Regions from separate parts of the Homo sapiens genome. Here all the other regions are linked to region 3. Evidence: fine-mapped expression QTL. A gene starts in region 3. Each other region holds a variant in brackets. All regions are shown on one strand. Distances are from middle to middle.

Evidence for each region. PIP is the estimated chance that this variant, and not a neighbour inherited with it, causes the effect.
Region 1: its variant is fine-mapped to the expression of RAB11FIP4 in whole blood (TOPMed, PIP above 0.99).
Region 2: its variant is fine-mapped to the expression of RAB11FIP4 in whole blood (TOPMed, PIP 0.93).

What each region holds. Positions count from the first base shown.
Region 1 is chr17:31,483,776-31,493,508 of GRCh38, forward strand. The region is part of intron 3 of RAB11FIP4 (RAB11 family interacting protein 4); the gene reads left to right. Among named protein-coding and RNA genes, the nearest start is that of MIR4724, 46 kb to the right of the region's middle. RefSeq lists silencers at 3,865-4,604, 4,695-4,744 and an enhancer at 5,165-5,234. The variant T/G (reference allele first, on the strand shown) is at 4,611.
Region 2 is chr17:31,519,541-31,529,273 of GRCh38, forward strand. RAB11FIP4 (RAB11 family interacting protein 4) reads left to right here. Exons shown (of 15, transcript NM_032932.6): 5 at 1,626-1,820; 6 at 2,375-2,509; 7 at 2,820-2,855; 8 at 3,972-4,071; 9 at 4,353-4,456; 10 at 5,550-5,690; 11 at 8,302-8,383; 12 at 8,866-9,003; 13 at 9,080-9,238. Among named protein-coding and RNA genes, the nearest start is that of MIR4724, 10 kb to the right of the region's middle. RefSeq lists enhancers at 3,563-4,197, 4,856-5,470, 5,851-6,145, 6,086-6,700. The variant G/T (reference allele first, on the strand shown) is at 4,466.
Region 3 is chr17:31,386,677-31,396,409 of GRCh38, forward strand. It overlaps RAB11FIP4 (RAB11 family interacting protein 4), which reads left to right and starts at 4,999. Exons shown (of 15, transcript NM_032932.6): 1 at 4,999-5,335. The coding sequence starts at 5,177. RefSeq lists an enhancer at 4,214-4,803.

The DNA of each region.
Region 1 (9,733 bases), 97 kb after region 3:
TTCTCAAAATAATGATCATGAAACCATATATATATATATTTAGCCAGTCGTTCCACATGGCCCCAAACATGTGCAGAATGTTGCTTCTTTACACCATCCAATGTTGAGCTAACTCTTGCATGGTGGCAGCGAAAGAAAATAGACACAGAGAGGCCAGGCATGGTGGCTCATGCCTGTAATCCCAGCATTTTGGGAAGCTGAGGTGGGGGGATTGCTTGAGCCCAGGAGTTTGAGGCTACAGTGAGCTATGATTGTGCCACGGCACTTCAGCCTAGGCAACAGAGCAAGATCTTATCTTTTTTTTTTTTTTTTTTTGAGACAGTCTTCCTCTGTCACCTAGGCTGGAGTGCAGTGGCACAATCTTGGCTCACTGCAACCTCCACCTCTCAGGTTCAAGTGATTCTCCTGCCTCAGCCTCCAGAGTGTCTGGGATTACAAGCGCTCGCCACTACACCCAGCTAATTTTTGTATTTTTAGCAGAGACAGGGTTTCGTCACGTTGGCCAGGCTGGTCTCGAATTCCTGACCTCAGGTGATCTGCCCGCCTCGGCCTCCCAAAGTGCTGGGATTACAGGAGTGAGCCACTGCGCCGGGCCTGACATTGTCTCTTTAAAAAAAAAAAGGAACCTCACAGGTAATGCTAAGAGACCAGGGTACCTAACTCAAGACCTTCCTTCCCCACATCCTCATAGGTGGTGCTATGCTCAGAAGGCAGGATTATATTTCCTATTAACTCACTCTTAGCCCCCGTTTGAACCAAGGACACTGAATCCTAGCCTGTGTTAGAGCCCTCAGATCCCATATTCATCCTGTGTCTAATCTCACCCATCAGATACAGTCACCATCCCCACCCCACCCCCCACTGGACTATCATTGCTTCTCTGAACCCTGCTGGAAAGTGTTAGCCCTTCCCTCAAAAGTCAGGGTCCTAAATTTTCCCTCAGGCTGCCTCTAATCCTCACCTCTGTTCCCCTCAGCCTCTTGCCATAATGATCATTAGTAATAGCTACTGTTTATTGGTTACCTGCTCTGTGCCAGGCTCTGTTCTATGTATTTTACTGGTCCTGATTATTTTGATCCTCACAATAGTTCTAAAATACATACTATTATTATCTCCAATTTAAAGATGAGGAAATTGAGACACTGGGACTTAAACTTGCCTACGTTCATTTAGCAACAAGGTGGTAAAGCCAAGATATGGCCCTTGGCCCCGGCACCCATGCACAGAACCAGTGCGTCAGACTGCAGCTCACTCATGCTGCTGGTAGTGACTAGGAACTGCCATTTATTGAGCACCTGCAGCATCTTAGGCATTGCACTAGACACTTTATCATTTCATTGAAACTTCACAACTGCAAGAGGAAATGTCTTATTTCCATTTTCTAGAGGTAGAGACTGAGGCTCCAAAACATTGACTTCCCTTGATAAGTGGAACCGGGCAGGCTTCAAACCCAGGAGTGTTCAATGCATCTGTGGCCTTTCTCTGTCACTCTGCTTTTAAGGACAAGTACCTGCAGACATTCCCCACTCCACTACCTTTGAGAAAAATAAAGAAGGACCTACTGATACCACCCGTTCCATAGAGCTCTTGAGAAATGTCGCTCAGGCTGCCCATGGTGGGGACAGGGAGGGGGCTTGACAGGCCTGACTTTCTCCATTGACCTTCTCTGGGAGAGAGTCACGACCAGAGAAGGGATGATCACCCTTGGTTTCTGCTTTTCTTTCTTGGTTCTGGACGATCCTGTCATGTGACCTGCTTTGAGCCTAATAATCCTTAGGGGCAACATCGGACTTGGAAGGGAAGAAGGGAAACCAAGATAGAACCCCTGGACTCAGCCACATCCTAAAACCTTTTGGGACACTGCTGAGCTTAAGGTCTCAGGGTGGAGATGGGAAGGCAGATAGAGTGGGCCCAGGGTGCATGGGCTCAATCGCATACCACACCTTTGAGGAGTGCCTAAAATTAAGTGTAGTCACTGTGCTAGGGTGTACAACATCCTGTGAGGTACCATTCCCATCTTACAGATGAAGACATTGAGTCTTAGAGAAGTAACAGAACTTGTCCCAAGACATCTGGGAAATAAGACTCAATTCAAACCCAAGTCTGTTTGATTTCAAAGCCAGTGGTATGATACACCACATAGGTACTCTTATTTTTTTTTTAAATAGAGACAGGGTCAGCCAGGCGCAGTGGCTCACGCCTGTAATCCTAGCACTTTGGGAGGCCAAGGCGGGCAGATCATGAGGTTAGGAGTTCAAGACCAGCCTGGCCAATATGGTGAAACCCCGTCTCTACTAAAAATACAAAAATTAGCTGGGCGTGGTGGCACACACCAGTAGTCTCAGCTACTTGGGAGGCTGAGGCAGAAGAATCGCTTGAACCCAGGAGGCGGAGGTTGCAGTGAGCCAAGCTCACGCCACTGCACTCCAGCCTGGGCAACAGAATGAAATATAAATCTCAAAATAAATAAATAAATAAACAAATAGAGACAGGGTCTTGCTGTCAACCAGGCTGGAGTGCAGTGGTGCCATCATGGCTCACTGCAGCCTCAAACTCCTGGGCTCAAGTGATCCTCTTCAGCCTCCCAAGTAGCTGGGACTACAGGTACGTGCCACCACACCTGCCTAATGTTTTTATTTCTAATTTTTTGGTAGGGATGGGGTCTTGCTGTGTTGTCCAATCTGGCCTCAAATACCTTGCTGTGTTGTCCAAGCTGGCCTCAAATACCTAGCCACAAGTAACCCTCCTGCTTTGGCCTCTCATAGGCACTGGGATTACAGGCATGAGCCGCCACATCCAACCAACATGTGTGTTCTATATGATACACCACAGTGCTCCTGTGTGTTAGAGACTGTGGGAGCGGACCCAAACAAGAGAAACAGTCTGGCCTCTGCACATATATCTCTGAACAGCAAGGCATACTTTCCGAGGAGAGGGCTGGGGCAGTGGAGTTTCTCTTGGGGCCACAGCTCTAGCTCCTCTCTTAGGTGGCTCTGGCCAGGAGGCCCTCCTGTACCTAATGCTGTCCCATTTGGAAAGTCCCCAGCAGTTCTGGGAGCTCCAGCGGCTGCTTTGCCTCAGAGACAAGCCCTGGTAAACATAGGGGCCGCTGCGAATTTACTGGCAGGAGAGACTGAGAAGGAAGTTGACAGCCAAGAGGCAGAGAAGTGGGCAAAGCTGGTGCGTGTGTGCATGTGTGTGTGTGCATGTGTGGGTGTGGGTGGGTGTGTAGGGTGGTGCAGGACCAAAGCACCCAGATGCCCCACTGGTCCTGCCCGTACCAAAGTGCCGTTGCCACTTTGTTGGCCAGTGAAGACTCAGGGAAGGCAAAGGTGGCTTTGAGCCAGACAGGAAGATAAATCTCTCCCCTCACTCAAGTTATATAGTGCAACAGCAGGTCAAAGGGCAACCACATTTGCAATATTTGCCGCTTTACATTCATCTCATTTTTGTCTTTTTAAAGTCCAGGGCATGGTTAAGAGTGATGGGGGGATGGGGAGTACATTTTTAAACATTTAATTTTTTGTAGAGACGAGATGTCGCTATGTTGCCCAGGCTGGTCTCAAACTCCTGGCCTCAAAGATCCTCCGCCTCGGCCACTTTGTCTGAGCCACTGTGCCCGGCCTGAGGACACATGTTTGACATAAATAGTATTTACTAGCATTCAACAGGAAGGGTCCTCTCCTTTTTTTTTTTGGTTCTTTAGTTCTCGTTGCCGCTTGGTTCTTTGTGTTCCTGGGCTGGTTATGGAGATGGTTCCGACTTCACATGAAAAGGCTGGAAAAGTTGTGGGTAGGACTCTGGATGAAAGTCAGCCTAGGCGCCCCCGGACTCATTAGGGGGTGGAGGCGGCGGCGGACCGTGTGGGGCGGGGTGCGCAGTGTGAGCCGGGGAGCGCCGGCCGGAATCTCACAGTGCGGTGACAAAAAACCGTGAGGGTGGCGCAGAACGGGCAAGAGACTACAGCGCCTACCTGGCAGGGGCGCGAGCTCACACGCCGACTCCTGGAGTCCCAGCCAGGGCTGCCCTGAGCTGGGCGCGCCCAGGCGAGCTCCACCTCCGGAGGCGGGGCCGGCCGCGCGGCCATTGGTCGGCGCCCTGGAGCCACCTGCCCCTACCTTGGGGGCGGGGTTACCTGGGCCCCGCCCCGCGGCTCGGGTTCCGGGGCCGCGTCCCTGTCCTCCGCCCCCGCCCCCGCCCCGCCCCGGCGCGAGGCCCCGCCCCCGAGTCCCGGGGCCCAGGCGCCTCGTGATGTCACCGCAGCTTGATACAAAGAGCCCTTCGGCCCACGCGGGTCTCCCGGCAACGGGCGGGGGCGGGGCCGCGCCTTCCACTGGTGCCCAGAAGTGCGAGCGGCAGCGGCGCGGCCGCGATTGTTCCTGCGCTTCGGGGCTGCCCGCCGCGTCCCCGCGCGCCGCCGACCCGCGCCCGCTGGCTTCCGCGCCTCTGCCGGGGAGCGGCCCGCGGATGCGCACCCCGCCAGCTCTCGGGAGCCAGGTAAGCGGCGGCCCCGGGGCTGGCGCTCGCAGGGCTCCGGCGGCGCGCACCTGGCTCGGCCCGGCCCGCGGCCCCGGGAAGTTGGCGGAGAGCGGACTTGGCCTGGGAGGTCG[T/G]GTTACCTGAGCCATCTCGTTCGGCCGCGAGTAGAAGCCGCTGCCAGGTGCGCGGGTGGCGGCTCCTTCCCCAGCGCAGTTCCAGGAAGTGCTTTTAGTGGACTAGGAAGGGGGCTCGTCTGCTGGGGCGCCTCCCTGGGGACCCGACGGCGGGCCCCACCTCCGGCCGCAGCGCCCCTGCCCTCCTGCCCTTGCGGGATCGGCGTGGTACCCAGCGCCGTACCCTTGGGCCGGGTCCCCGAGGGGGCTGAGCGCCGCGAAGTTTTTCTGTAGCTCTTGGCGGCTGCACAGAGCCTGTTTCCTGGCTTCCCCCGTCCCTCTGGGATGGTGGAGGTGGGGAGTCCTCGGGGCCAGCCCAGGTCGTGGTGTGGGGCCGGGGCCCTGCCTCTCCCCAGCCGAGAAGCTGCAGTGGTGGGAGGTGTGTTGTGGCCCTTGAGGCGGCCGGTCTGGCCCGGTGGTGGGAGCTGTTGGCACAGCCGCTTCTCTGTGCGGGCGACAAGTGTCTCCAAGGTCCTGGCGGCGCAGTCTCTGGAGAGCGTGTCTGTGCTGTGGGGAACTGGGTTCCGACACAGCCCCGCACCCTACTCCTCGCCCATGCAAACTCTCCAGTGCCTTCTCTTTCCCTTTTCCCTCACCCTGCTCTCCCACAGAGGGCTGGAAATGACACCTCACTCGCCCCGAGGGCCATGCCAGTTTTCCTTGACTGACCGATTTTCTCAAAGCAATGTGAGAGGTCTGGGTCCTGTCTCTGCACTTAGCCTCCACCAGGTCTTGGAGTGGCAGCACCCTGGGCTGGTTCCTGGTGATCCACCAAACTTCTGCCCTGCCCTGCCAGAGCAGGAGGCAGGTGGCATTGGCTTGGGCTTCTGGGACGCTGAAAAGCAATGGGGCAGGCACATTCCTTAGAACATCCCCAGGTCCTGGCCCAGCTGAAAGGTGGTTACAGTGGTTGCTGGGATGGGAAAAAGGAGACTCAAAGGGGTCGGAGGCAGTACTAATTGTGTGCCACTAGACCTCTGCAATGGGAGCGCTCTCACTCCCCCCCATATCCTCCCCCCACCAACTAGCCTTGCGTTGGTGGAGTGCCTGAGTCGCTGCCTTTGACTGGGGTCTCCCCCAGGTGCTGGCACCCTGGCACTGGCCCAAACCTTACCCTGCTTTCTGGCTTTCGGGGACTGTTGATTATGTTCCCAGGGAACATTACACACGGGACACTTCCCTGCCTTCAAGGTGTTTGCAAGCTCAGGCAGTCTGAATACTGGGTCTGCTCTGGGCCTGCCCAGCTCTTCTAAGTTGATTGCAAGTTGCCTGCAGTTGTCTTTGAGGTCCCTGTCACTTCACAGGGGAGAGTGTCGCCTGGCGGGGTGAGGGAAGCCGCTAGGGTTCTTCACTGCAGAAGGCAGCACCCCTTGGGCAAATGCGTAGTGGAGAACAGCTTCGGAATTTGAAGGGGGGGCCTGGACTTAGGCGAAGGGGGTGGAGTAAATGACTAAGGCCAGTAGAAGAGATAAGACTGGGCCGGAGGCGAGGGGCGGGACTAGCCAGGCCAGGTGAGCCAGCTGGAAGGCATGACCTTTGCCCTAAGGGAGGTCTGTAGGAGAGACTGCCTGGAGCCTGCCCTCGGAAGGGACTTTTAGGCAAGTGGGGGAGGAAAAGCAGAAGAAATTAGAGGGCCCATTGGGTTCTAAGCCACCTCCTTTGGGGTTCCAGGGGCAGCCTGCACTCGGAAGGCTCTGGGCTGCAGCTTGAGATACTCCACCGGCCCTCACTCTCCCTCCCGACCATCTGTGCCACTTCTAAAGCATGCTAGTGCCTTCCTAGCCCCTTCCCCTCCTGGTAGGCAGGCTGCTTCAGACCCAAGGTTTTCTCTTTGGCCGTTCACCTGGGGCCCTTGCAACTCCCTCCTTCATCTGTACCCGTAGGTATCTGGCAGTCCCCGATCTGGGCAGCCCGTTATGCTGAGGTTTTTCACAACTGATTCTGTTCTGAGGAGACTTCGCAATTTCACTTTATATGTTTTAGGTATGGGTAAGGAGGGGGTGAAGGGGGTAGGAGAGGCTCCCAATGAAATAGCAGGTGAGCAGTTCCCAGAAGGCAGGCATCTCCGAATGAGAAAGGGCATGCTGTTTCCTGGCACAGGGCTCATTGTGTTTGAAAAGGAAGCATCTTTTTTTTTTTTAATTGAGTTGAGACAGGGTCTTGCTCTATGGCCCAAGCTGGAGTCAAGTGGTGTGATCAGGGCTCACTGCAGCCTCCCACCCTCCCAGGCTCAAGCAATCTTCCCACCTCAGTCTCAGCTGGGACTACAGGTGTGTGCCACCCTGCATCTGGCTAATTTTTGTTTTTGTTTTTGTAGAGATGGGGTTTTGCCATGTTGTCCAGGCTGGTCTTAAACTCCTGGGCTCAAGGGTTCTGCCTGCCTCACCTTCCCAAAGCGCTGGGACTACAGGCATGAGCCACCACACCCAGCTGAAGCATCTTTATCTGTTCGTGCCTGCTGTCTGGTGTTAGCAGTGGGGCACAGTGCCCTGGCCTTGCCAGGCATACAGAACCCCTGGGGCTGGACTCTGTCTTCCTCTGGGTCAGCTCTGCTGGCTCTTGACTCAGGAACTGGGCACCTATGGCTTCAAACACTGGCCTCGAAGATCAATGCCCAGTTACTTCATCTCAGGTCTCATGGCTGGATTATTGGGTGGTCCCATCCATACCAATTAGGCACCACAAGACAGGCCTGCCTATTTGGCAGTCCCACCTGGTGCCTTACTGGATGTCGTACGATCTTTGCCCCTGAATGGTACCACAGTCTCCCTCACCAGGAGGCGTTTCAGGACACGGAGGCTTCCCCATTTCTGTTTGCTCAGCCCCCAGCACATTTCCCAGTACAGGGCAAGTGGTACTGAATTCATTCACCAGATTCTTCGTTGCCTACTTTGTGCCAGATTCTGTGCTGGGCACTGGAGATACAGCAGTGAACAAAACAGACGAGAACCCCTGCCTTCAAGGAGCTCGCAGGATGGTAGTGAGGCAGGTAGAGCAGTAAAACACGGAGTATGGGAGTTGGCAGGAGGAAGAGCAGGGAAGGGGAGGGAGTGCTGGGTTTCAGAGTCAGACAGGGAAGTCCTCACTGAGAAGGTGACATCCAAACGAAAGAGGTTCAGGCAGAGAAAAGAGGAACTGCAAGGGCCCTGAGGTGGGACGGTGGCTGGCATGCTATGTCTGTCCACAGAACTACAAGACAGGATGTGATTGGAGAGCAAGCCAGGGCTGGGGGGACAGGGGACAAGCTCAGAGAGATGGGGGACCACCCAATGCTGTGACAACCCAGAATCCCAGGAGGAGGAGGAGAGGGGACTGACAGTACAAGTGAGACTAGAAATCCACAGGCACGAGCTGCCTTCCATTGCTCTGCCCTTCTCAGAGCCTCCGCGTCGAGGGGATTTGGGCATTGAGGCATTTCTGGAGGACAGGCTTCTGTGGCCACTGCTGCCACAGACTTCCCTGCCCTCAGCTTGAGTTGGGTCAGACGAGCCTGTCCATGTGAACGTGGAAACATTTCCTGCCAGACTATGCTGTTGCCACCACACGAATCAAACCAGCAAAGGGCACGCCGGCGATGTGCATACAGCTGTGTCTCTGACAGCTGCCTGGGCCTGCCTGCTGTTCCCACGGGTCAGCTCCTGTCGGGTAGGGACAGGTCCTGCTCTCAAGGCTCATAAAGCAGCCAGCAGCCTGCCCGTGTTTTCCGTACTCTGGCCTGTGTCACCCAGGCTGTCTCCTCATCTCTTGTCTGATCCTCAAGGGTTCCCTGGCCTCCCTCTTCACTCCCTCTGCCTGTGGCAGGCAGCAGCACAGTTCTATGGGGTCCTAAGGACCCCAGGGAGTCACTCCCACATTTGAGCAGCAACTTTGGGTTTAGTCTGTCCAGGTTAGGGCCCCAGATCATATATATGTGTGTACACACACGTGTGTTTGCGTGTCATGCGGCATTCGGATGGGGCATCCTGTTCATCCACCCCCCTGCTATGGGGTGGCTGAAGGTTGGGGTGCCCTCTGAGTTTTTGGTGGGTGGGGCTTCAGCAGGGTGTCTTGGCTACCTCTCCTGGCCAGCACATGTTATCCTGGGAGGATTTGTAGCTTTGGGCCTGACCACGGTTCCAAGCACCATGATCTGGAGCCCACACTGGGTGGCAGGCTGCAGAGAAGGTGCCCCCAGAAGCCTGGACTGCACCCTTATCTGTTTTCATTTGGAGCTATTTTCTCATTATCTCATGCCAAGTGTCTGACTACACATGGCAGTCCTTCCCCAAGTGTTTGCAGCTTCATCATAATACTGTTAATTGAATGGAATTTGTCATTGGCCAGCTTCTGTGGACCCCATTCAAGGCTGAGTGGATGCTGGGGGCGCCCAGCTGGCCTTGCTCAGAGGGGTCCCGAGCGTCTTGGTGCTTCAGGAGCTGAGCCCCCCTCAAGAGCATTGATGACAAGAGCTCAGATTCTCAGAACCCCCCTGAGCACCCAGACAACCTTGGTGGTTACTTCTTCACTTTTTCGCATGACCTGGAAAGGAGATGAGACGGGGAGGAGAACATAGGCAACCAGAAGGACGTGCAGCCTACAAGGGTCGTATGAAGGTCAGAGGGGTGGCTGTGATGGCCCAGAGCTGTGGGGTCTGAGTGACCTCCAGCCCAGAACCGCCCAGCAGGCCAGTGCTAGTCATGCCAGCACTTCCAAACCCACTTCTTGACTGACCTTAAGAAATGGGAAGTTTTCCAACTGTTGGTCACATTTTTAATTGATCTAACCTGCTTCATCTTCCCAGACAAGTGGGTTCTTTCCCAACAATGTAAACATTAATTCAGATGAAAACAAAGCTCTGTAGAAGTTATTAATATCTGTGGCTCTGCTCATGGGAGCCTTTCTCTTTTGAGGTACCAGAAAGAGGAAGGCCTAAACAGAACTGGAGTGTGGGAGAGTGGGCGGGCTCTCTCTCTTTAGTCATCTGTGGTCACCCCCCACCCCCCTGCGCTGTGCAAGCCTGATACCATGGAAAGGGAACCCACATTTCAAATAGCTGCTGCTGCTCCGGTGAACTTGGGGTAAGGGAGCTGAGGGGTGTCTACCCT
Region 2 (9,733 bases), 130 kb after region 3:
CCATTGTGGCTGAGGAAGCCGAGGGGGTTGCAAGTGGCAGCCCCTTACCAGAAGGTGATGGTTACGACTGCTGCAGGGATTTGGAGAGGGAAGAGAGGGGTTCCCATGTTGGTTGAACCACATGAAATTGACAACTTTTAATCATTTCCATCTTCAAAAAAGTAATTTCATGTGGTTCAACCTAGTATATCTCAATGCAGGGTTTCTCAAACTCAAGTGATTCTCAGAGTCCTGATGTTCTTGGTGGGGCCCTTTGGGTCTGTGGATGGAGAAGAGGGGCCGTGCTGCTCGTGCTGCTCTCTGGGAGCAGCCTTGTAATCCCAGCAGTTTGGGAGGCTGAGGCGGGCAGATCACCTGAGGCCAGGAGTTTGAGACCAGCCTGGCCAACATGGCAAAAACCCCATCTCTACTAAAAATACAAAATTAGCTGTGCATGGTGGCAGGAGGCTACTCGCAGCTACTCAGGAGGCTGTGGCAGGTGAATCACTAGAACCTGGAAGGCAGAGGTTGCACCAATGCACTCCAGCCAGGCGACAAAGCAAGACTCTGTCTCCAAAAAAAAAAAAAAAAAAAAGACAAACTTAAAAAATAACACAGTATAACAACTATTTACATAGCATTTACATTGCATTAGGTATGATAAGTAATCTAGAGACGATCGAGTATACAGGAGGATATGCATAGGTTGTATGTGAATACTATGCCATTTCATATCTGGGACTTGAGCATCCTCAGATTTTGGTGTCCACAGGGGGTCCTGGAACAAATCTCTCTTGGATGCCAAGGGATGACCATACTCAGTCTTACAGTATCTAAAATTTTAGATCCATTTATATTCATTTTCTGTATTACTCCGAATGTTTTTTTTTCCTCTCCTTAAAGTGAAAGCAAGTTTATTAAGGAAATAATAAAACAATGGCTACTACAGAAGCAGAGCAGCTACTCCGAATGTTTTTTTGTTTGTTTTTTTGTTTTTGTTTTTTTTGAGACGGAGTCTCCCTCTGTCGCCCAGGCTGGAGTGCAGTGGCACAATCTCGGCTCACTGCAAGCTCCACCTCCCGGGTTCACGCCATTCTCCTCCCTCAGCCTCCTGAGTAGCTGCGACTACAGGTGCTCGCCACCACGCCCGGCTAATTTTTTGTATTTCTAGTAGAGTTGGGGTTTCACCATGTTAGCCAGGATGGTCTCGATCTCCTGACCTCTGATCCGCCCGCCTCGGCCTCCCAAAGTGCTGGGGTTACAGGCGTGAGCCACCGCGCCTGCCACTACTACAAATGTTTTAACAAACCTTTCAACAACTATTTGATATTCCACAATTTAATAATTTACTAACATTATAATTTAATAATTATAATTTGATCTAGCTGTAGCTAGACAATTAGGTTGTAAGCAGTGTTTTGCTACTGTGGAGTAGCATGGGTAGAATTGGTTTGAACTGTAGAAATGGTTTCTGTGGTGAGATGTTTCCCTTTAGATAGGGTCCCTGAAATGTACTTACCAGGTCAAGAGCTACAAACTTAATCGGTAGTGCCAATTAAAGGGAAATGCCTGTCAGTTTCCCCACCACGGGCTGTGGCTGGGGACCCATGAGTCCTCCTCTGACTTGGGTGCTCTCGGACCCTCAGGTCCCTGGTCCACACTCCATCCATGACGACCTCAGACCTTTCTACACACTCCACCACCTCGCTCATCAGCAATGAGGAGCAGTTTGAAGACTATGGGGAGGGTGACGATGTGGACTGTGCCCCCAGCAGCCCTTGCCCCGATGATGAGACCAGGACCAACGTCTACTCGGACCTGGGGTCTTCGGTGTCTTCCAGGTGGCCCCTTGGTCTGGGATGTCATTTGGGGTCAAAAGTTGCAGAAGCAATTTAAGCACATCCTAGGGGGTGGGGGGGTGCGAGTCCTGAGCTGGCCCTTTTCCTTTGTCCTCAGCTACTTGAGTTCTGCTCCTGGGGCTTGGGGTTGCTACCTTCGCACCCTGATTAGGGGTCAGGAGTTCCTCCTGAATTAACTGACCTAGGAGGCTGCACACTGGGGGCCACGGGGCTCTGTGTCATCTTGTATCCTAGAACCTCAGTGTTGAAGCATCCTTCCAAGTGACCCCTGTGATCCCTTCTCACCCACCTGAGTCACCACTTTCTCTGAAATGAGCTCGCAGTTTGCCTTAGCTGTTAAATGGGTATGCCTCACTGGCTTCTCTTTGAGCGTGTTGGAGAAGGGATGATCTGTTGCTATATTTCCACTCCCTGCCCCTCCCCCGTAACAAGGTTCAAAGGTACTGGGGACTCAAGTAAAGTCAGCTCAGCAGGGTGGTGTAGGGCACCAGACTGGACAGCAGTTAAGGTGGTGATTCCTTTCCCTCATGAATCAGTGCGGGGCAGACGCCTAGGAAAATGCGGCACGTGTACAACAGCGAATTGCTAGATGTTTACTGCTCTCAATGCTGCAAGAAAATCAACCTGCTCAATGACTTGGAAGCCCGACTGAAAAACCTGAAGGCCAACAGGTGAGGCCCAGGCCCAGCTGGGGGGTGAGAGGCCGGGGGGCCAGGGCAGGGCCTGGAGGGAGAAGCTACGGGCATGGCGAGGCGACCCCTGCTGTCTGGGCAGGTGAGAGCTCTCAGAGGAGGGTTGATCCAGGGGCTTTTTCTGCCACAGGAAATCAGGCTGTTTCTTCTCAGGACCAAGCTGACTAGTGAATTCCTTTCAGTGGGAGGGAAGAGCCTTGTCCTGCACTGTGGTGTCTTACAGCTAGGACAGAGTAAGGGAGTGGACTAGAACCCCTCTGTTCAATGACTGTTTCCTTTCTCTCTCTAGCCCCAACCGAAAGATCTCCAGCACGGCCTTTGGACGGTAAGGCCCGCCTCGAGGGAGGGCAAATTGAGTGCTGTCCCCATGCTGCCCACTGGCCGGGGCTCCCTGCCAGCAGCCCGGACTCAGCTGGTGCCCGCATGTGGCTGAGTGAGCAGAGGGGAACGAGGCCATCCCAGGGCAGTGCAGCCAGGGCAGCGTCACTTCTGAAAAAGAGGGGCCAGCTCCTCCCTGCTCTCTCCCCACCCCTTGTCCCTTCTTCAAATCCTAGGTCACCTTGACTTCAGGCAGGCATGCCAGGGATGCCCTGAGAGAGACAGAGCACCCCACAGCGTTCAGTGCCCTTCCTGCCTCTTGGAGCTGGCAGCCATACTCAATAAAGAGACCCCGGGTTTCCTGCAGGCGGGGATCTGGGCATGAGTGTGCGCCATTGGGGCTGGTCACTTTGCTCCGATTAAGTCCTGCGGCAGTTCAGTGTGGCCCCAGGTCCACACTCAGGGCTCTGGGAGCTGGCAGCAAGGGCCCAGGAGCTAGGTGGGTTGGCCTCTTGGCAGAGACCCTGGCTGCTGCCTATCAGGGAGCTGGAAGGGGATGTCACTGGGGGTGGCAGCTGGATTTTGCCTCAGGCACGGGTTAGCTCAGCAGGCCCAGTCCCACCCCAGCTCACTGCTCTGCAAGGCCTGGAGAATTCTCTGCCTTTGCCATCCCCCAGAGTTCCCAGAGACGTAGCAGGAGCCAGCTTGGTGGAGAGGCTCAAGCCTCAGGAGGCCCAGACCCTCTTCCAGGGCCATGGAGCTGGGCTACCTCCTTGGGGGCTTCCCCACTGGAAGAGGAGGGGGCTCACGTGCCAGCTGAGGTCACTGGGTAGCTGCAGGCCAGCATGCTGGCGTGAAGAGGGTTCTGAGGCCGCAGGAGAAGCTGTGCGTCATTGGCTGTGTCTGCCAGGGGACCCCGGGGGTCTGTACAGCCCATTTGCCATCCTCTGGGCGGGGTGATCCGCTGAGTTTGGCAACATTCTTCCTCTCAGGCTGAGTGAGGGCAGCCTCCTTAAAGGGGCAGACCCCCTGGGGTACTGGATGCTCGCCTAGCCAGTAGTGTGAGTAGGCCCCTGTCTCTGGAAGGCCCCTGCAGCCAGACACCCTCCTCCCACCCCTGCAGGCAGCTCATGCACAGCAGCAACTTCAGCAGCAGCAATGGCAGCACCGAAGACCTGTTCCGGGACAGCATTGACTCTTGCGACAATGACATCACAGAGAAGGTGGGCCTTGGGTGGCTGGAGAAGGGACTGAATGCATGCCTGCTCCCAGGGGAGATGGGGTGCACTCAGGCTACTGTCTGGGGACTTGGGAGACCCTGTACCTGCCTAGGAATTGGGGGCAGGTGGCCCTGGTCACGTGTTCCCCACTCCCCCACCCCACACATGACCGTTCTCAGATACACAGTGGTTTGGAGGTCCTGCTCATGAACCTCATGGCGTCGAGGTTCTCGGTTCTGTGGCCTCAGAGGTCTTCTCCACCCCACCCCGGCCCCCTGCTGCAGGTAAGCTTCCTGGAAAAGAAGGTGACAGAGCTGGAGAATGACAGCCTGACCAATGGGGACCTGAAGAGCAAGCTGAAGCAAGAGAACACACAGCTGGTGCACAGGTCAAGCAG[G/T]CAGCGGCGCTGGGGGCTCGGCCGTGACGCTGGGGAACAAAGGGGGGTCCATCTTGCTAAGACCTCCAGGAGGAGGCAGCCTCATGCCTTTGCAGCTCTGAGGGTCTGTGACGCATCAGCCTCTTGTCACATGGCCCTGCCCACATGTGGTGCCCAGGACAGGACCTTAGGGACAGGGAGACAGGTTGGAGCTTGACCTTGGCTCTAGGCCCAATGGATTCTACCCCCTGAGGTCTGAAGCCACAGGGCTGGTCCAAGATGGGAGTGGGGATCCACTGTGTCTCACTCATACAGTGACAGGAGCCTGACGTCCCTTCCTAGGGACAAGCTCTGCAGGGGACAGGCCAGTGTGAGCTGGGCGGTGGGAAGGGTCCAGCACTGCTGCTGATGGAGGTCCCCTGAGCCTGCCGTTCCTGATGCTGTCTGCAGTGGTGGATTCAGGGTTTAGTTGTCCTCACCAGATGGCATGACCCTTGGGGGACATACCCTGGCCAGGGGTCCGGTCCTCCAACTTGTCACAGGGCCCAAAGATGGGCCCTTTTGTACACCCCAGAAGGTCAGCCTGGTGGAGGGGCTGTTGCCAGTGAGACGTATCCCAGACCGAAATACCAACCAGGCTGTCACTGGGGTGCTCACATCTACGTGCCCCTGGCCCTGTCCCAGGTCTGGGGCAGACTTCAGGCCACCAGCCAGGATGTGCCTATTTTGGGAGTCAAGGTGCCCAATAAGCTGAATTATTAATCAGAGGGGTGGCCGGGAAGGAACAGCACAAAAAGAAGAGGTGAGGCCTGAGGTGGTTCCGGCCAGGTGTGGCTGCAGGGACTGGTGGGGGCGGTCCCTCCCTGTGCTGCCCTGAGCGCCCCACCTTCTGACTGCCAGGCCTGCCCCTCCATGGCATGTGTGACCGACACCCCCTCTATATGTGCGGTGTCCCCGTTCATCTCTCTGAAAGCTACTGGCCCACACGCCCTCAGTGGACATGCCAGTGACTCAGGGTCTCGGGGCCCAGGGTCCCCCGTGCCACAGCCTGGGTTGGGGTGAAATGGTGCAGGCCCCAAGAGCTTGCCCATTGCGCTGTCCTCAGGGTGCATGAGCTGGAGGAGATGGTGAAGGATCAGGAGACCACGGCCGAGCAGGCTCTGGAGGAGGAGGCGCGGCGCCACCGCGAGGCCTACGGCAAGCTGGAGAGGGAGAAGGCTACCGAGGTGGAGCTGCTCAATGCCAGGTGGGCCCCTCCACCGAGCCCCCTCCCTCAGAGGGACCCCCTGTCCTGGGGCAGCCCTGTGGGATAGGCGCTATCCCCATTTTATAGATGGGAATGTGAGGCTGAGGGGCAGCCTCTTGAGACTTTCCAGTAGTAACAGTTCCACTTTAATACCACGAGAAACACAGAGGCATGCTCTTCAGGAAGTTCGCTAAGGAATGTTCCCAGGAGCGTGGCTCACATTTGGTAATGCAAACCACACAAATGTCTGTCAGAGAAAAGGGCCTGGGCTGGGTCTCACATCCAGGCCTGGAGCGCCCCCTGCTGTCAGGTTCTCCCCTGACCCCTGGTGGACTGAGCCAGAGCCCCAGGGCCAAGGTAAATGGAAAACCCGGCTCCTGTGCCTTGCGTGTACCTGTGGCTTCGTCATTGGAACGTGACGCAGGCGGGACAAGGAGCAGCCCCGGGCCAGGGATCTGAGTTGGTCTCCCATTAGCTCCATGGCCTTGGACGTACTGGGTCACCTCCCTGTGTGCCCCACAGAGCGGCTGTGTGGGTGGGTGAGCCGATGTAAGTCCAGACCCTGCCCACGGGTGAGGGCTATGATGATGCCTCTGTGATGAAGCCCCTTTGCGGCCCTTGACCGAGGCCGAGGAGGCCGCCTGGGCTTCTGGCAGAGAGGACAGCTGCCCTGGCACTCCTCAGGCCCCCTGAGGCCCCAGTCTCCATGCTGAGGCTTCCCAGAGTTGCCGAGCCCCACCTGGCGGCTGGTGGGCTGCTGAGCAAATGACTGGGAGTTGGGCTCTCAGGCAGGTACCTCCCTGCCCCCGTGTCCCTGCCCCTGTGCAGTTTGGTGAGGAGACTTCCCAACTCCCCGGTGTCTGAGACCTGCTTTGCTAAGTTACCCACCAGGGGTTCATTTTACATTTTGACTCTATTCTAGAAGCTGCTGTTTTGCATCTGTTTCTGGAGGCTGGTGCCTAGTTAAGGGTGACTGCTCTCGCTCAGCCCGCCTCGGCAGCTGGCCCAAGAGAGGTGGCTGGGACACGGGAGGTGGTAAAAGACAGTGTGAACCTGGGCCACAGGACAAAGTGCAGAAAGCCAGCCCTCGGGAACTGTCTCCTAACGTGTGCCCGTCACACAGCTCCGGGGGCGCCATTCGTGTAAAATATCCGAGTGGTGTTCCCAGAGTCCTGCCGTATGCTTGGTTCCCTACCACTTCCACCCGCTTGGGGCCACCTGCTGGTGGTGGGGCTGAATTCCTCTCTGGAGCCCAGAGGGCAGTGGAGGCCCAGAAGCCATCCTTCCAGGAAAGAGGACATGATGGGGAGGTGGTGGGTTGAGAACGGGATGCTCTGCAGGAGTCACTGCCAGAAGTGACCCTGTTCAGTTCTGCTGCCACCGACGGCCCAACTCACCTGCACCTATTCTCAGACCATTTAAAACTGACCTGAGGCCGGGCACAGTGGCTCACGCCTATAATCCCAGCACTTTCGGAGGCCGAGGCAGGTGGATCACGAGGTCAGGAGATGGAGACCATCCTGGCCAACATGGTGAAACCCCATCTCTACTAAAAATACAAAAATTAGCCAGGCGTGGTGGTGCGCGCCTGTAGTCCCAGCTGCTCGGGAGGCTGAGGCAGGAGAATCGCTTGAACCCGGGAGGCAGAGGTTGCAGTGAGCTGAGGTCACGCCACTGAGACTCCGTCTCAAAACAGACAAACAAACAAAAAACTGACCTGAACACCCAGGCTCTGTCTTCTTGTGGAATCCCTTTAGGATTCCCTTTGTGGAATTCCTGTGTGAACGCTAACACAGAGGATTATTACTGTCAGAGCCCATGCCTGTGGTCATCAGAGGGAGGTGCAGTGAGCGCTCAGAGAAGAGCCCTGGATGAGATGCTGTTGGCGGAGAATGAAAAGCCAATATGATCATTGCCTTCAAGTTACAGAGTCTAACAGGAGGGCCCAGTCACAGAAGCCACAAGAAGACTGTTTCTCCATCTAGCAGAAAGACATCCCCGTGTTGTCTGAGGATCTGAAGGATGCATACAAGAAGAATCTGCGTTCCTACTCTCTAATGAATGTTTCCACTTATTGGAAAAATAAAGGCCACGTGTGGTGGCTCACTCTTGTAATCCCAACACTTTGGGAGGCCAAGGTGGGCGGATCACATGAGGCCAGGAGTTTTTGAGACCAGCCTGGCCAACATGGCAAAACCCGTCTCTACTAAAAATACACAAATTAGCTAGGCGTGGTGGTGCATGCCTCTAATCCCAGCTATTCAGGAGGCTGAGGCACGAGAATTGCTGAAGGAGTTAGAGGTTGCAGAGCTGAGATTGTGCCACCTCACTCCAGCCTGGGCAACAGAGCAGGACTCTGTCTCAAAAAAAAAAGAAAGAAAATAAGAATGATAATTTACTATTTTGCTTACAAATAGTCCTTACTATTTTGCTTTGGCTGATAGGAAGCTCACGGCTAAATTGTCTTTGACATAATAATCATATTCTTTCTCTCAGTTGGTTTCTGGTATCTTTCCTCTGGGAGGAAGCAGAGAATCACTGCAGACTGGCAGGCGCTTATCAGATAGTCTACATTCCAGGTTTCTGAGATTTGTCTTTCTCCTTTCGCCAGGGTGCAGCAGTTGGAGGAAGAAAATACAGAGCTTAGAACAACAGTGACTCGGCTCAAGTCTCAAACAGAGAAACTGGATGAGGTGAGCAGCAGATCCAGGCTTGGAGGGGCAGGGCTGGCCATCGGGAGCCTTTAGTTTATTGCTTCTGAAATTCTAAACAAATGCCGCACCCCCTAAGAAATGCAAAAAAAGTGAATAACAACTTGTGTTTCTGTATTTCTGATTTTCCAAGTTTTCTACAGCGAATGTATTTATTACTTTATACAATGGAGAAAAATTAGTTTTAGAAAGAGGTTAGCTTCTATTTGGGCTAACACCTTCAATTCAGGTTGCATCTAGCATCGTTGAAGGACTTCAGAGGCCTGAGGTTTTTAGTTGTATTTCTAGAATCATCGGGGCTCTGGCCGTTTCTGTAAGCCAAGACTCAGGGCTCCGTCTAAGGGAGCTGGTTTCACTGTGCATCTGCCTCGTGAAGATGGCTGACCAGACCCCAGGGACACCCCTGGACATAGTGAGCCCCTCTCTGGGAACTCTCCTCCCCTGATCGGGTCTCCCTGCTCCAGGAGCGGCAGCGCATGTCTGACCGTCTGGAGGACACCAGCCTGCGGCTCAAAGATGAGATGGACCTGTACAAGCGCATGATGGACAAGCTGCGACAGAACCGCCTTGAGTTCCAGAAGGAGCGGGAGGCGACGCAGGAGGTAGGTCCCAGGCCAGCAGGCACCAGGGCTCCTTCCAGCATCCCTGCTCCTGCCAACCTGCTTCTCTCCCTCGCAGCTCATCGAGGACTTGCGGAAGGAGCTGGAGCACCTGCAGATGTACAAGCTGGACTGCGAGCGGCCAGGCAGGGGCCGCAGTGCCTCCTCTGGCCTAGGCGAGTTCAATGCCAGGGCCCGCGAGGTGGAGCTCGAGCACGAGGTCAAGCGGCTCAAGCAGGTGGGTCTAGCAGTCTCTGTGTCCAGTGGGGCAGGGTGGCCGGGCCCACCACGTGGGTTTCCTGTGCAGGATCTGTGGTAGGGGAGCCCAGAGCTGTAGCAGCACTGCCTGTCTGCTTCTCAGCAACCTGTTTGCCAGGGCTGACTGCCCCATTTCACAGCTCAGGAAAATCGATCCAAAGATCTCTCCCTTACGTCTATGTAAGGAAATAGACCCTGCCTTGGTGCTCAGGGTGGAGGATGAGACCATACCCAGCTGCAGTATAGTGCCTGGAGGCATTGGGTTCTCCCAGAAGTAGACCCTCACCCAAGGTTCCTTTTTTTTTTTTTTTTTCCCAAGAGACAGGGTCTTGCTCTGATACCCAGGCTGGAGTGCTTTGGCACTCCATAGCTCACTGCAGCCTTGAATTCCTGGGCTCAGGTGATCCTTCTGCCTCAGTCTCCCTAGTAACTAGGACTACAGGCACACACCACCATGCCCAGCTAATGTTGTTTT
Region 3 (9,733 bases):
TAATCACCACCCAGGTGCCAGGTACTGTGCCAAGCGCTGGGCGAGGCATGACGCAATCTTTTTTAAATTAAAAGCCTGAAGGACCTCTACAAGGTAGAAAAACTGAAGCTTAGAGAAATTAACCTGACCAGAGTCATGGGGCTAAAAGAGCAACAGATGTTGGTGCCCAGCTCAGCTGTTTTGAATTCCAAAGCCTGGCTCTTCATAATCTTTGATAACTTCCACATGATATTCATCCCATCTGTATTCATTTCTCATGGCTGCTGTGCTAGCTCCCACAAACTTGGTGGCTTAAAACACCAGAAATTTATTCTGTAACAGTTCTGGAGGCCAGAAGGCCAAAATCCAGGCATCAGCAGGGCTGTGGGCCCTTCAGAGGCTCTGGGAGGGATTCTGCTCCTTGCCTCTTCTGATGGCTGCTGTTGCTCCTTGGCTTATGGCTGCACCACTCCAATCTCTGCCTCTGTGGTCACATTACCCTCTCTTTATGTGTCAAATCTGCCTCTGATCCATCCTATAGATATGTGTGATTGCATTAAGGGTCCACCTAGCTAACCCAGAATAACCCCCCTGTCTCCAGATCCTGTTGTTTTTTTTGTTGTTAGTTTTTTTTTTGTTTTTTTTTTTTTTGGAGGCAGGGTCTCACTCTTGTCACCCAGGCTGGACTGTAGTGGCATGATCTGGGCTCACGGCAACCTCCACCTCCTTGGCTCAAGCCATCCTCCTGCCTCAGCCTCCTGAGTAGTTGAGACTACAGATACATGCCACGATGCCCAACTAATTTTTGTATTTTTTAGTAGAGACAGGATTTCATCACATTGCCTAGGCTGGTCTCGAATTACTGGACTGAAGCAATCTGCCTGCCTCAGCCTCCCAAAGTGCTAGGATTACAGGCGTGAGCCACCACGCCCAGCCTCCAGATCCTTAATTACATCTGCAAAGACCCTTTTTCTAATGAGGTAACATTTACAGCAGGGGTCCCAACGCCCAGACTGCAGACCATTACCAGTTCATGGCCTGTTAGGAACCACAGCAGGAGGTGAGCGCCGGGTGAGTGGGCATTACCGCCTGAGCTCCACCTTCCGTCAGATCAGTGGCATTAGATTCTCATAGAAGCGGGAACCCTATTGTGAATGGCGCAGGAGGGGGATCTAGGTTGCGCACCCCTTATGAGAATCTGAAGCCTGATGATCTAAGTTGGAACAGTTTCATCCCAAGACCCTCTTCCCCCGACTTGTATGAAACCAGTCCCTGGTGCCAAAAAAGGTTGGGGACCACTGATGTACAGGGATTGGAATATAGATATCATTTAAGGGGGCATTTTTCAGCCTACCATGCCATATTTGTCCATTCCTTAATTTATTCCTACACAGACCCTAACTATGTGTGTATGGGCATTATTTAGGAGCTACAGAAATCAGGAGAGAAATAGACACAGTCCCTGCTCCCAGGGACCTCATGGTCACTCCTGTGACCTTTCATACAGTTTCCCAGATAATCCGGTGATAGACAATAGGAGTAAGATGGTAAGGATAGTCACAAGGACAATAGCTGTCACTAACCAGCAGCACTGTTCTGACACTTACAATGTATGTATTAACTTACTGACTCTCACCACAGCCTTATCCATACCTGTAAGTGGGCTGCAGTCTGTACTTTTCACTTCTCTGCAGGAGCACATGGGAGAGGTGGTCAAGGTGGGCAAGGAGTGGGGTGGTCATGAAAGGCTTCCGGTAGGAAGTGCCACTTCCACAACACAAGGACAGGAATTAGAGAAAGTGGAATTGGGTGGGGGTAGGATTGAGACCTCCCACCCACTAAGCAAAGGGAGGCAGGAGGGAGCCTGGATGCTCCCAGACTAGGGTTAAGGAGAGGCAGGAGAGTATGAAGACACTGCACAATGCCAGCTCAGGCAATGGTGGCCATTGAGTTTTCAGCAGGGGAGGGACCTGATCAAACTTGTTTCTTCCTAGAGAAGGGGCCGGAGTCCCAACTGTCCCTTCCATGTATATTTCCCAGTATATTTCCAGCCTGCCCAGGCTGCTGCAGCTGTTGGAAATCCCCTGGAGAATCAGAGGTCACCTGGAGGAAGCGGAGGACAGAAAGGAGGCTCCGCGCCTTCCCGCCCTATCCATGGGGACCTCTTGCTTTCCTGGAGCAACCCCCTTCACCCTGCAGCCGGCCCTGACATGGGTATTCTCTTGCTGCTTCTGCTCGGGGCTGCACTCTGAGCTCTTGGATCAGGGTTTTGGGAGCCCTAGTGGTCCCAGGTCCACTTCCAAGGACCCAAGGACTCCATAAATTGCACCATCTCTGAGGGACCTTTGGGTAGGCACTCAGCCATTTCTGCAGGCCCTCTTGGGCTCCTAGAGCCTGGCACCTCAGTGTAGATCACACTGGGCCATGACTGCCCCCATCAAGTTCAGCAAGTGGCTGCACCCCTTTCACTGTCTCCCTAGCATACCCAACACAACGTAGGTGCTCAACAAAAACGTGACAACCCCAGAAAGAATGCCTGTGACGTGCTTTGCTGGCCCCAGCAGCACAGCGGTGAGCAAGAGACCCAGTGCCACTGGTGGGGGAGGCAGGTGTCCTTCAAACCATCGCCCACCAGAGACAAAACTGCAGAGACCTGGGCAAGGAGAGTCCGGTCAGGGAAAGCTCTCCTGGGGGATTTTTGAATTTGTGATGATCCTGTCTTTGACAAGAACTGGCTAATCTGGTTGCGGGATTCTGTCTTGGTTCACTTGGGATTTGTTCATGCTCAGGTCTGAGGTCCCCGCCTCTGCCAGCTGAAGTGGGTGAGTCTTCCAGCTCCCCTGTCCCCAGTTAGGGGGCATTCAATGCCAGGCTGAGCGCGGAGAGCCATTTCTGCAGCCCCCACCAGGGGGCAGCCCCAGCTCCTGGCCATCTCCTTTCTGTGCTGAGCCCCTTGGGTGAGAGAAAATGGCACGAGCTGACCTTGGACGAACTAATATCGGGGTCCCAGGGGCAGGCAGCAGCCCCCAGCTTCCACTCCCTACCTCCTTGCCAGGGGGCTGGCTGGATCTCCAGCAGCCAGTCTCTCCCAGCCAGCTGCTTGTCCTTATTCTCCACTTCCACCTCCATTTTGCAGGGTAGGTCGGGGGAAAGCAGCATTGCTTAGATTCGCTCTCATCTTCAGTTGCCCTAAAAGGAAGGTACTATTATCCTCACGGTACAGGCGAGGAAACCGGCTAAAATATGCTAGTATCCTGCTGAGCGGCATCCAGCTAGCAGAGACGCTCCTACTCAGCCGAATACCCCTACTCCACTCCCACGGCCTCCCCTTTCCCGCTTTCTCACATTTCGGACTCCTCAATCCTCAGAACCACAGGTCTCTCTTCCCAAGAGGTGTTGCCTTTCGTGGCTCTCAGACGAACTGAAGGGTCAAAGGAGAGTAGCTAAAAGCCAGGTTCATCCCAGGAGCCGGGGCTGGAAAGAAGAGGTCCCCGCCCACTGTCAGAAGGCAAATGGCAGTCCCTGCGCAGGATATATTCAGGGTTGAGCAGGAAGACCACAGAGGTACAAACCGAGGCCCAGCTAGGGGAGGCCATGCAGTTCACCCCGTACTCCCTGTCTGCGCCACTACGTTGCTCCCGGCTCCTCACATAATGGGCGGGCCCATCCCCTCTGGGTGGGGCTTCCTCTGGGCCCACTCTTGCCTGGAGATCAGGGACTTGAAGGTAATTAAGACATATCTTGCCCTGGAGGGCTTCCCAGCATGGTAGGGGAAATGGGCATCCCACTAGAGAATTAAGAATTAACTGGGCACCTGGAAGAAGGGCTTAGAACTCAGAATAGAAGATAAGATGGCGTGCCATCAGAGAAGCCTTCCCGGAGGAGGAAACCTCTGTGCTGAGCATGACAGCATAGGTGGGAGTAGACTCAGCCAAGGCCTTTTTTTGGGTTGGGGCCAGTCGTTGCCACAAAGACCTGATGTGCCGAGCAAGAAGGTGGAGAGAAGAGCCCGGCCGGGTCCTGCAGGGCCCCGAGGCTGGGCTGGGAAGTTAGCACAAGCTGGGGTGGAGGCTCCGCTGAGCACTAATGGGAGGAGGCCAGGGTCCTGACCTAGAGCCTGCGGCCAGCGGGACAGAGATTCTGTCCTGGATTCTCTGAGCTTGGGGCATGCGGGCTGCCAGGGAGGTGTGATGGTGGGAACCCGGCGAAAGGGAGGAAGCCTCTTCCAGGCGTGGAGCAGCCTTGGGCCCTGAACAGGCAGGCCTCTGGAAGCGCCTCGCTTTTCCTCCCTCCGGCCTCATCCTGGTTTTCTCCTCATCTCCCCGTCGCAGGGTCCCGGGTCCAGGCTGGGGTTCAGTTGCCTGCTCCTCCTCTCTGTGCCCTCCCCCGCCCGATGGCCCCACAAGTGCTGTCTTGCAGGAGAGCGCCGGGAGACCGCAGGGCGGAGGTGAAGAACGGAGTCCAGAGCCCTCCAGAGATGGCAGCGAATCCCGGCCCTGCCTCTTGCCAGCTGTGTGGCCTAGAGTGAGTCCGACCTCTCTGGGCCTCAGCTTCCTCCGGGATGAATGCAGTCACGGAACGCGCCAATGCAGGAGGCCCCCAGGACATCCTGAGCGCTCGGGAGACGCCAGGCGCGGCAGCGGGCACGGATAGCGGAAAGGGGCGCGACCCCGCGGAATCCTCCGGCAGGGCAGGGCCTTTGGGTGGCTCCGGGTGTCCAGAGGAAGGGGTGGGCTCGGGGACGCGGAGGGAAACTGGGGACGCGGAGGGAAACTGAGGTCGCGGAGGACGCGGCCGTTGGCAGCTCGCTGCGCCTGCCGGCCCCGCGTGGGCCGCCCCACTCGGGAGGACGCGGGCTCCTTTTGTCTGCAGCGTCCCCGCCGCCGCCGCCCCCGCCGCCTCCCCCTCTCCCTCCCATTTTCGCCGCGGCCCCCGCCCCTCCCCTCCCCGCCCCCTATTGCCCCTCCTCCTTCCCCTCCCCACTCTTCTCCTTCCCTCCCCTCCCCTCCCTTCCCCTCCGGAGCGGCTGGGGCTGCGGCGCCGCTGCTGACACGGATCGGCCGCGGCCGCCACCGGGCGGAGGCTGCGCGGCGCAGACCCAGACGGGCGGCCCCGGAGGGCGCGCGGCGATGGCGGCGGCGGGCAGGCGGCGGGCGCGGCGGGCGAGGGGTCCGGGCTGAGCTGCGGGCCGGCCCGGATGGCGGGCGGCGCGGGCTGGTCGGGCGCCCCCGCGGCTCTGCTGCGCTCCGTGCGCCGCCTGCGCGAGGTGTTCGAGGTGTGCGGCCGCGACCCCGACGGCTTCCTGCGCGTGGAGCGCGTCGCGGCGCTCGGACTGCGCTTCGGCCAGGGCGAGGAGGTAAGCTGGCCCGACCCCAGTCCCGGCCCGGGGACCCCAGCCCAGCCCCGCCGCCCCTCCCCCAGCTCCCCCGCCGGGTCACCCGCGTGGCCCGAGGCGGTGGCCTCCCTCCCAATCCCCTCCCTCCGCCGGAGCCCAGGACCTCGGCCCCCCCCGGGTATCCCTGGCCCAGCCGGGCCCTCGCTTTCCGCCCCCCGGCGCCCGTGCCCCGAGCGTCACGCGTCACGCCTAGGGTGGCTTCTGCGCCCACCTTCCTTCCTCGGCCATGCAGGTCCTTCTGAGCGGTCTGCACATCCACCCTTGTCTGGGGGAGAGAGCTGCCAGAATCCGGCCCTAGGCTCCCCACCCCACCCGGCGCTGCGGAGACCAAGATGCAAGGGTCTGTGTACGTCCTGCTGGGCCGGGCCAGGGGGTGAAAGGGACCGGTAGGGGTGCTCTGCAGCCTTGGCTCCTCGGCTGCACACACCCTGCCCAGACACGGAAGGAGGTGTCTGCTGGGGCCACCGTGTACTCCCGGGCCAGTGTCGGGTGACCTCTCATTCAGGCTCTGCTGGGCAGCCAGGCTGGCAGCTGGCTGTGTTGGTTGCAGCAGGCCAGGCAAAGCCAGGCTCGGGGAGTGGTGGCTGAGCAGAGGGCTTTCATGTGGCGGGGCCGCATCTATTTGGGGAAAGCAGGACTTACGTAGATTGTTAACAGGGCTGGAAGCGGAGGGTCGGTGCCGCCAGTAGGGTGGACGGAGTCATATCACTAAACGCACACTACACCAGTGTCCTCTGGTGCCACCGGCATGGGGACTGGGGACTGTGTCTCAAGGGGAGGACAAGACACCCACCTGGCTGAAATGGTCAGGGGTTTCCCCTGGAGCCAAAAGCCCTGAGAAGTGGGTTTCCAAGGCCATCTAAGGCCTCAGGCCCTGCATGGGGGGCCTGGGGCCATGGGCCTCAAATGGGCACTGGCTGGCATTGTGTTCCCAGAACAGGTCGGACCAGGCATTTCAGAACATGGGAGAAGCTGGGTGATGGCCAGGTTGGGCCCGTGCCTCTGCGTCACCAGAGAGTGGGAGGCGATTGAGAATCATCTCTCCACCCGCACCTGGGCATGGGCCGGGACTTGTGAGTCGCTGAGAGCTGTGGGCAGAAGAGAGTGAGGCAGCTTCAGGGCTTGAGAACTCAGGTACCCACCACAGGAAAGACCACTGCAGTGCCTGTGAGAGCCCAGACTGCCCTCTGCGGGGCTTTGCTGAGGGACACTGCCTGCTGCCACCATGACCCTTCTTCCCCAAAGGCCAGCCAAGCCCTTCCGTTTTTCCAGTGGCTCCCATCTGGGGCAGGCTGAGCAGACTCCTGGCATGGGGATAGTCGCGCTCCTTCCTCTCAGAACACAGACTGCAGGTCGGGTAAAGAAGCTACCAGCTCTGGCTGAAACCTGGAGTCCCCGAACTCAGAGCCTCAGTAGTGGGAAGGGCCTCCCAACAACCTCTGGCAGGGGCCACCGGCCTCAGCCACGTGCCCAGCAAGCCTCACCCACTTCTCCCCCAGCTGGACAGTTCCTGCCATTAGAACCTTCTCCCTCATACACTCTAGAGACAGACCTGCTTGTCACTTAGTCATCACCGTTCTGCACGGGGACTCACATAGGTCTCTCTTCTTTGGGGGAGCCTTTAAATATTTGAAAATAGCACTCCTGCCCCTTCTCTCCTTCCCAGCTCCATACTCCCATTTTCCCTTCTCCAGGCCAAATACCCCAGTTCCTGAAGCCCTAGGCCATTTCCATGTGACCCAGTAGCCAGACCTCTGGCTTCTGGCCTTGGAGCTGCCATCGACTAATTCTGTGATTCAGTTTTCCTAGCAATAACATGAAAGGGCTGGACAAGCAGACCGCCCCCCGCCGCCCCCACCAGGACTATATTAGCCCCAAGACCTCACACATATGCACACAGCTTAGGGTGGGGCTGCCTCTGAATGGGGCACTGCACTCTGCTTATATTAAGTTTCTGGCCACCGAAACCTCCAGGGATCTGTTTTAGAAACCTCTGCCAAGCCAGGGATTCTCCACCCTTCGGGGAGGGTCAGTGATTTTTTTCTTTTAAAAGCATACTCTGAGATTACTACAGAAGCGGTGGATATGCATTGCAGAAAACTGGAAATAGGGACAAGCAAAATAAAAAGTATTGTGTCCTATCTCTCAGGCAGCGCCTCAATGACACTTCTGTCAGACCTTTCCAGAGCTGTTTCCATGCTTATATGTCAATTTTCTCCAGAAAATGAGATCATACTGTGCATACTGTTTTGTAACCTGATTTTTTTTGCCGGTAAATGATCATGACTTTTCTGCTTCAATAAATTTTCATCTGGTTTAATATGCAGACCTTTTTCAGATTTCCCTATTTGACCCCAAAATGTCCATTTTTGCTGTTTCCTCTCCAGGACTGTGCAGTGTATGTGGTTGTTGTCACCTTTTAGTCTCTCTTACTGTACACAATTCCTTTTTCTTTTCTTTTCTTTTCTTTTTTCTTTTAACAATCCTGGCTTGTGGAAGCATTCGGGCCTGTTGTCTGTCAGTAATTTCTGGAATCTAAGCCTGTTTCTTGGCCCTTATTCCCATTTAATTTCGTCTTGTTCATTTCATCACATTGTATCTGTCAAGAAAGAGAATCTAGCATCCTACCTCTATCACTCTCAGCTGTGCTGCTGCCTGCGGGCTGGAGAAGCAGTGCTTGGTGTGTCTGAATCCACAAGGCTGGTTAAACATTGCAGGGCAGGACCATGGACAGGGCCCCGAGGCACTTGTAGGGGTGGTTTTCGGCTTATGCTGTATTGACCGAGACCCGTGGAAATATATTTTGCATCTCTACTCACTACCCATCTTATCCCCTGATGCATTAAAAAATCGGAGTGTTGTTTTCCAGCGGTGGGGTGGCGGGGGGCGGGGGGGGGGGGCTCCCTTACGAAATGCAGTGTACTCTGACTGTTTCTATTTTATTTGTTTTAAAATCAGGCAGTGACATTGATTTCCCAGCCACTTGTGCTCTGGGATGGATAATGATCATTCATTAGATATGTAGTTCAGTGAACTTAGAGCTGATTGTCCACAGTTTACCACCTACCCCCAGAATACCAGGGATACCAGGATCAAATGCTTTGCAAAAACCAAAATATACTAGGTCATAAAGTATGAAATAAATATCCATGAGGCCATAATGAAATATATATATGTATAAATTATTGAACAGATGATAATAAATAAATAGGAAAATCTCTCGTATAGAAGAAATCTGAATAACGTATGTTGATAATTGCCCCATTGAGGAAGTGAAGCATAACGTCCCACCGTGTAAGCATGAGATGTGCGTAGTGGCTTCCTTATAAAGGGTAGAGTTTGGAAAGTGGGGGGAACAGCAACTGTATAGTGGAGAAACCCAACAAACACTGTCTCAGAAGGTGATCAAGGACAACATCGATAGTGACAGATTGTGATGATGGCATACACCCTTGGTGTGATGTGGTGAGAATAGAACTTTTCCTCTGTGGTCTTCCTCCCAAACCAGTAATCCCAGTCTAGTCCTGAGAAAAATGCCAGACAAATCCCATCCGAGAGGCATTCTACAAAATGCCTGATTAGGACCTCTCAAAATTGTCAAGGTCATCCAAAACAAGGAAATTTTGAGACACTGTCAGAGCCAAGTGGAGACTAAGGAGGCAGCTGACTAAATGCAGTGTGGTGTCCTGGATGGGACCCTAGAATCAAGAAGAGGACATTAGGTAAAAACTAAGGAAGTCAGGATCAAGTATGAATGTTACTTAATAATGTTATTTATGGATTAGGTTAGTCCCTGATAGTTCCCTACTTTGTTGACCTAGGTATCACAGCAGAAAAGAGGAGACAATGGGCCGGGCGTGGTGGCTCATGCCGGTAATCCTAACACTTTGGGAGGCTGAGGTGGGAGGATCACTGGAGCTCAGGAGTTCCACACCAGCCTGGGTAACATGGTGAGACCCCCCATCTCTACAAAAAATACAAAAATTAGCCCGGTGTAGTGGCGTGCACCTGTAATCCCAGCTAGTTGGGAGACTGAGGCAGGAGAATCGCTTCAACCTGGGAGGCGGAGGTTGCAGTGAGCTGAGATTACATCGCTGCACTCTAGCCTGGGTGACAGAGTGAGACCCTGCCACAAAAAAAAAAAAAAGAAAAGAAAAGAAAAGAAAAGAAAGAAATGCAGATTTTTGAGGGATGGGGGCACACCACTGCCCTGATCCTGAAAGTCTACAATGCCAGGGAGCAGGACTCTGATAAGTATGTAACATGATGGCTCAACATCCTGACCCTGTGTTGCCTTCTGATATATTGCATTGTCTCCCTAACCTCTTTAGGCCTCTATTTACTCATCCATCAAATGGG